Linked DNA regions of Homo sapiens. The protein of the gene in region 1 purifies or fractionates together with the protein of each later gene. This does not show direct contact. Each region holds a gene or a part of one and is shown on either strand. Other genes may lie near its edges.

What was found.
Region 2: the proteins of PRAG1 (region 1) and TNS3 purify together in Homo sapiens (affinity purification with mass spectrometry, with the first as the bait; one large-scale study listed by BioGRID). This does not show direct contact.

What each region holds. Positions count from the first base shown.
Region 1 is NC_000008.11:8,330,623-8,334,439, forward strand, and holds part of PRAG1 (inactive tyrosine-protein kinase PRAG1), read right to left. Parts: intron 1-3,817. UniProt on the Homo sapiens protein: Catalytically inactive protein kinase that acts as a scaffold protein. Functions as an effector of the small GTPase RND2, which stimulates RhoA activity and inhibits NGF-induced neurite outgrowth.
Region 2 is NC_000007.14:47,572,034-47,575,850, forward strand, and holds part of TNS3 (tensin-3), read right to left. Parts: intron 1-3,817. UniProt on the Homo sapiens protein: May act as a protein phosphatase and/or a lipid phosphatase. Involved in the dissociation of the integrin-tensin-actin complex. EGF activates TNS4 and down-regulates TNS3 which results in capping the tail of ITGB1.

The DNA.
Region 1 (3,817 bases):
AATTTCCCCCTCAATAGTCAGAATGAAGGGCGCAGAAGAAATAGCGAGCCAGAAGAGGGAAGATCTAGATGGCAGTGATCTCAGCAGGTGCTGAAATCCTGCAGTCCACAGGTCTCCCCATCCCACGCTCCCCAGGAAAGCAATGGGGACAGACGGAGGCTAGGGCAGATGATTCACTTCCTCTCCCTCCTCCCTCTAACAGAAGAGGCTGAGAGCAGGAGGAGGATCAGTTGCCACCTCCTGGATAAAAAAAGGAGGGTAAGACCACCTACTTATGAGGCTCTCAAAGGACTGTAAGCCTCAGTCACCAAACTCCCAGCCTGATGAGCAGGAGGACTGGGAGCCGTGAGCACACATCCACTTCCTGACCTTTCTGCATTCTGGGCAGCAGAAACCGTCACCAGCGAGGCGTCTGATTCTCAATTTATCATCAACACAACAGAAGCTGAGGCTGGGAGATGGGAGTGGGGTGTGATCAGAACCCTGGTCAATGCTTTCATCAGTGCCCTCAGAGACAAGGACAACCTGCCTACGGTCAGGATTCCTTCCCATCCCAAGTCCAGTCGGCTAGGGAGGTTCATAACAGATCAGTTTCCTGGTTAGTCTCTTCTTTAAGCCTTAGGCTTATTTCTCCATGTTTATTGATTTTGTCTTCCTTGTCTTTACTACAAGGCTATCCTGATGCCACCAGTATGCCCCTTTCTGCTTCTGCTCCAATTTGAGGGTGAGCAGTGGAGTGAACACTTCACCAGCTGTCAGCCTGCCCTGCCTGAGTTTCCTCCTTTAGAAAATGACCGATGACATCATTGTGAAGGCCCCTTGCAGCACTAATAGTCTATAATTTCAGCTACTCTCTCCATTTTCAACCTCTCTGAACATGCATTTTGTCTCAAAGCTGCCCCTGAAATCAAATAGCTCTAGGCAGATTGTTATCTCGGTTCAATTGTTCTTCCTTCTATGTCTAGTTCACACAAATTACCACTGGTACATTTTCCAATCTGTGAGGAGACCAGGGATCTTTTAGCAACATAATCGGTAACACTTCTAATTCCCTAGATGACCAAAGAGAACCAAGAGGTTCTGCTTTAGACTGTATGGTAGGTCCCAGCACAAAAAACCCTTCGTGTATTCAGGCAGCTGGAAGGAAGTGATTTTGTCCTTCCCTCTGTTTTCTCTTGCTTTCCTGTAGGAGCTGTTAGTCAGTGACTTTGATCAGATCTACACCGTATCACTACTTGGGTAAATCTGACAAGGGGTACTAGGTATTAGCAGAGAAGCTTAACTTCAAGAATTAGCACATGCACTGATTAATTTTTCTTTGTTTCTTAGATGCTATGAGTTTGGGGCACCAAACTCAGTACTCGCCGCATTATACACACACTCATTAGAGGCTAGCACTGCATACCCAAACATTCCCTATCCACGCCCTTGCCCAGCAGAAGTAAAGTCCTGTAGCTACACAAACCTCATCAGGTGAAATACAGCTCCCCTGAAATGTGGACTTCACAGGGATACCTGGGCATTATCTACACATATTACGATTTTTTTTTTTTTTTTTGATGAAGTTTTGCTCTTGTTGCCCAGGCTGGAGTGTAATGGTGGGATCTCGGCTCACTGCAAACTCTGCCTCCTGGGTTCAAGTGATTCTCCTGCATCAGCCTCCCAAGTAGCTGGGATTACAAGCACCCACCATCACGCCCAGCTAATTTTTTGTATTTTTAGTAGAGACGGGGTTTCACCATGTTGGCCAGGCTGGTCTTGAACTTCTGACCTTCAGGTGATCCACCCACCTCGGACTCCTAAAGTGCTGGGATTCCAGGTGTGAGCTACTGTGCCCGGTCTATTATGATTTTTGTATTCAGAAAAGATATGCCTGGTTCTATGACAAGCATACTGCATTCCAACCTAACGCATTCTTCCTCTGAGTTTACGGATCCTTAAAGCTCTCCAGGTGTGGAATTACAGCTGGTGAGAGGTCAGAATTCACTCTTGGAGCCCCCACCCCCACCCCACCACCTCCAGGCCACTCCAGGCCTCCGAGGATCCTATAGTTTCTCAGGTGTTAATACTCTTGGGGATACTTTGAAATAGATGCTAACATGCAGCCCTTGTAGATGAAATTGGTTTCTCCACTACATGGCAAATGGTAGCTGTCTTCTATGGAATCTAAAGGCACTCCTAAAGACCTCCTCTGGCTAATTCTCTTGACTCTTACCTGGGGAACTATCTCTCCATAAACATGGCCTTAGGCAACACAGCATCTATGTTCTTACTGTTTGCAACGGCTGCCACACTCTGGATTAGGCAAGCTGGAAATAACAGGGAACAAATATACCCTGACACCTAAAATACTTCCGAGTTCACAGGCAAACCACTGGTTCAGAAAAGTCTGCCTAAAAAATCCTCCACGACTTTAGCCAACAGCCAATATTCTCCAGACTTGGATCCCAAGGGACATGAGACTAACTCAGACACATCCTGGTTTGATGCTGGTGTTGGATTGCTGTTTCCAAATTCTGCCTTACAATTAAGGGTGCAAAAGGGGTGAGAGGGGAGAACATTTTTCTGGGACCTTGGCCTATGTCTCAGTTGCCTCATTTGTTGGTTTTTAATAATTTTGCATGCTAATTGGGCCAGAGGGCTCCAAACCTCAGGTCCTAAGTTTTCCTTCGAATTTCCAATTCTGCATATAAAGGAAGTTCCTGGCTATAGAGTACAACACGCTCCATGCCTTTAGCGAACGTGCTTCAGGGAAGAGAAAGCATTTCTAGTGAGAAGCTACATATCACGTATGCTGCACTGGATGGGATCTTAAAAAGACCAAGGGAAGGTGCACTAGTTTGGTGTCATTATATTTAGAAAGCAGAGATGAGAAATCAGGATTTCAGTGGTTGGGAAGAACAGCTTAACCTCTCTGCAGAAATGCAGGCCATAAGTTCAAACATGGTACTCTGAGGTTTTCCTTATTATAGAGTCCTCTCTTCTTGCTGGGTTTTAATAGGCACTTTCATTGTTCTCTGCAGCCAAAATGAGAGCTGAGCTGACAGAGGAAGTGGTCAGTCCTGTTTTGGCTCTTTCTTTGCACAGCTCTGCTGTGTGATAGCAGCTGGGTCAGAACAAATGCAGAAGCAAAGGGCAGCGTCCCAACTAAGTCTCCCCAAACGTTTAGCTTTTGTGTTTGACCATTCTCCAACTTTGAGTAAGGTAAAGCAAGTGGAATATGGATGGAGAAAACCTCACCCATACCCTGTGCCCTGGGGCCCTAGTGCAATTCTCTCATGTGAGAGGTGAGAAAACTAAAGCCATCTGCACGGGCACCTTGCCAATATCACCCAGGAAGTGGCTGTCATGCAGGTTTCTGCCAACCCCCATTAACTATTCCTGCATCAGAGAGGATGAAGGGTGGGGCAGAGGGATGCTTTGGCTTCACACGGACTTGTTCCTCTGAAGGCAAGTTTTGCAATCTCTTGTTTGGTTCCACAGTCAGAGCAGGTTCAACATGAAATGTAGAAGAAAAAACAAAAACAAAAAGCAAAGCAGGCCGGGCTCAGTGACTCATGCCTGCAATCCCAGTACTTTGGTGAGCTGAGGCAGGCGGATCACCTGAGGTCTGGAGTTTGAGGGGCCAACATGGTGAAACCCTGTCTCTACTAAAAATACAAAAATTAGCTGGGCATAGTGGTGTGTGCCTGTAATCCCAGCTACTCAGAAGGCTGAGGCACAATAACCACTTGAGCCTGGAAGTGGAGGTTGCAATGAGCTGAGACTGCACCACTGCACTCCAGCCTTGGTGACCGAGTGAGACTCCATCTCAAAA
Region 2 (3,817 bases), on another chromosome or scaffold:
GCAGAGGGGCCACCTCACTGCTAGGTGTGAGGCTGCAGAGACCTCCCCATGGGCTCCGCACAGACAACCAGACACCCGACAAGCTGAGCTGATGTGGAATGGGCATGTTCTAAAAGAAGCAGCACTGACAAACATCTTTTACTCACAAATAGCCCGGCAGCCGAGGGACCATTTGGAGTAAGGCCATCCCTCCAGGGCGTTCTGAGAAGTCACTACAGTCATAAATGGGAGGGTGACACCCAGAGACCGGCAACGGCAACGCCTAGGTCGGGATCCAGGTTTGGGAGAACCATTCGCGCGGTAGTCACACACACACTATGCTTCTCACGCCCACTGCTGCAAACACCTTCGTGGGAAGAGGAAAATGAATGATCGTGTGTTCTGTTATCCTGTGAGAAGAGTGAGCCTTTAAAAAGTGAATAAACACCATTCCAGTTGTCGCAAAATCTCTACTAATAATAAGCAAAATGCCTTAAAAGCACAGTATGCTCTCGATGACCTATGTTTTGGATTATTCCTATTTAATGGAGGTGGGGGTGGGGAGTTAAAGAGCAACACATGATCGGGTGCAGTGGCTAAGGCCTGTAATCCCAGCACTTTGGGAGGCCGAGGCGGGCAGATCGCCTGAGGTCAGGAGTTCGAGACCAGCCTGGCCAACATGGTGAAACACTGTCTCTACTAAAAATACAAAAATTAGCGGGGCGTGGTGGCACACGTCTGTAGTCCCAGCTATGGAGGCTGAGGCAGAAGAATTATTTGAACCCGGGATGGGGAGGTTGCAGTGAGCTGAGATCGTGCCTGGGCGACAGAACGAGACTCCGTCTCAAAAAAAAAAAAAAGAGCAAAACATAGCAACTCTGTGTGTTGCGGGTTACCTGTCTCACTCAAATTTTTCATCAGAATAATCTGGTTACACCTGAATCCTTGCCAGTGGAAAATGAGAAAGGCCTCACAGGGATATGTGGGGAGTTGCCACCAGGGCTGCCCCAGAAATCAAGGGTCACGTGTGGCCCAGGCTTGGGAAAACATTTCTCAAACCACGTGGTCCCAATGCAGGCTGGATCTCCAGAGGTGGGGCCCACCCACCAGTCCTTCCCTCGGAAAGAGACCACGGCCCCAAGGACTGAAGCCCAACCAAGTAACTTAACTATTCATTATGCTAATATGCCCTTTGTTGAGGACCCAGGAGCCAACGCCCTGATACAAGCCAGCAGGGCAATGCCTTCACCCACCTCACGAGCAAGCCTATTCTTCCCTTATGGGCTGTGCTCTTGGAAATTTCTGTGCAGACTCTCTCCACCTCCCACCCTGGGGACACCCTGCCGCCCTCCACGCTGCCTCCCACCAGCCCGCTAGGTCGCTGGGGCATTGGTCTCAAATCTACAAGCGCCATGGAAAGTTGTCCAGGGCTTTGCCACAGTTCTCCGAAAGGGTGAAACACCCTACCTTGTGTCTTTGTATTCTTCTTTGCCTTCTGCAAATCCCCTTTGCTACTCCAGAACACAGCAGGTGGCCCTGCCCAGGGCCTCTGCCCACGCTGCCCCTCCATCGCGACGGGTCCTTCTGCAAAGTCGCCCAGGATTTAGTCCCTCACCTCCCCCAGCCCAGCATCCTCTTGGAAAGAAACACCAGTTGACTCCAGATAGAGCAACCCACCACCCCGTCTCTGGGCCTGCAGGCCTGCCCGGCCAGGGACCTCAAGTAATCCAGAGGAGAAACATTAGGATGAGTCTGCCTCCTCCTTGAGCCCCCAAATCCCACCAATTCTGCAAATGCCCACGTTGGAAAAGATGCCAGTAATTCTGGTTCAACATGTTCCAAGGAGGGGAAAACGACAGCCTGCTGTTGACATTCCTGATTTGGAATTGTGAACACATTCTTAGAGGGTAAAAATTAACCACCATCAGTTGGGGAAGGCATTATGGGGAGGGCATTATGGCTGCACTTCAAGGACTGATCACAAGAACCGCCTCACTCCAACTGCCCAGGGCCTGCATCGACGTTTTAACAGAGCCAAACCAGAGCGAGCCCAGTTCTGGACCGTTCCCTCAGAAAAGCAGCCGAGGAAACCCTGAGTAATTGCACTCATAGATCATAGGCTCTGGCATGTGGTTCCCAGACTGAACCATTTATCCAAATTAAAACCATTCTCCAGAAACAAAATCAGACCCTTTTAATTGAAAATAAAACCAAGCAACCCCGAAGGCTCTTTTTTTTTTAAATGAAAGACATTCTTCCTGCTTTCTCATCCCATTAATCACAGAGTTTACACAATCTGTCAAAATAGCTTGGTAAGAAGTCTCCCTCTTCCTTTTCCTGCAGGCCTGGTTTTTACCCTGGGGGTGATAACCTAGCCATGTTTAAGGACAGCGGGTGGACACCGTGAGAATCCAGCCAGCACCCTATGTCTCAACTGCAATTTGACCATATATACTAAGGAGTTCCAAAAAGCTTGTGCTCACCAAAAAAAAAATGGAAAGCAGGGACTTATACACCCATGTCCATAGCAGCATTATTCACAACAGCCGAAGGGTAGAAGTAACTGAAGTGTATCAACAGATGAATGGATAAACAAAATGTGCTATTCATACAGACACACACACACACACACACACCCCCACACACACGGTATTATTCAGCCTTAAAAAGAGAGAAATCGTGACACATGCTACAACATGGATGAAACCTTGAGTACAGTATTCTAAGTGAAATAAACAAATCACAAAAAATACAAATACTGTATGATTCCACTTGTATGAGGCACCCGATGTAGTCCGTTTCACAGGGACAGAAAGTAGAATGGTGGTTGCCAGGGACTGGGGGGAGGGGAACATGGGGAGTTAGTGCTTAAGGGACACCGAGTTTCAGTTCTGCAAAATGGAAAGAGTTCTGGAGCTGGAGGGTGGTGATGGCTGCACAACGTGAAGGTTCTTAATGTCGCCTAACTGCCGCAGTTAAACATGATTAAAACGACAAAGTTCATGTTATGCATGTTTTACCAAAGCTTAAAAAAAAAGATGTTTGTATTCTTTGATGCCAAAGAGTCTGCTAGAAATCCTTTCAAGAGCATGACTAGCTACGATCTGCCCAAAGACCTATGTGCAAGCATAACACAGGATGTAAATGATCAATGAACAAATAGTGAAGTCCAAATATCATGGTACATCCACATACTGGAGTACTATACTGTCATCAGCAGTCATATTTATGCAGAGCTATTTCTGGATTGGGAAATGCTTATACTGCCACATTGACTTTAAAATGCAGGATACAAAATAATACATATGGTATGATCTCAGCTTGGTAAATTAAAAAAGCACAGAAAACATATGGCACACAAGAAGGCTAAAATATGAACCTCTGTGGAGGTGATATTAGAAGGAATTTTTTCCTTTTTCCTTAGCATTTCTCTATCTTTTCCAAGTCTACAATGAGCACATATTACAAGAAAACTATTTTGTAGAAAAATAGTCAAAAAGCAAATTAAGAAGCAAAGATACGGCCGGGCGCGGTGGCTCACGCCTGTAATCCCAGCACTTTGGGAGGCCGAGGAGGGCGGATCATGAGGTCAGGAGATCGAGACCATTCTGGCTAACATGGTGAAACCCCGTCTCTACTAAAAATACAAAAAATTAGCCGGGCAGCCAGGCGTAGTGGCAGGCGCCTGTAGTCCCAGCTACTTGGGAGGCTGAGGCAGGAGAATGGCGTGAACCCGGGAGGCAGATCTTGCAGTAAGCTGAGATTGTACCACTACACTCCAGCCTGGGTGACAGAGTGAGACTCTGCCTCAAAAAAAAAAAAAAAAAAAAAAAGCAGC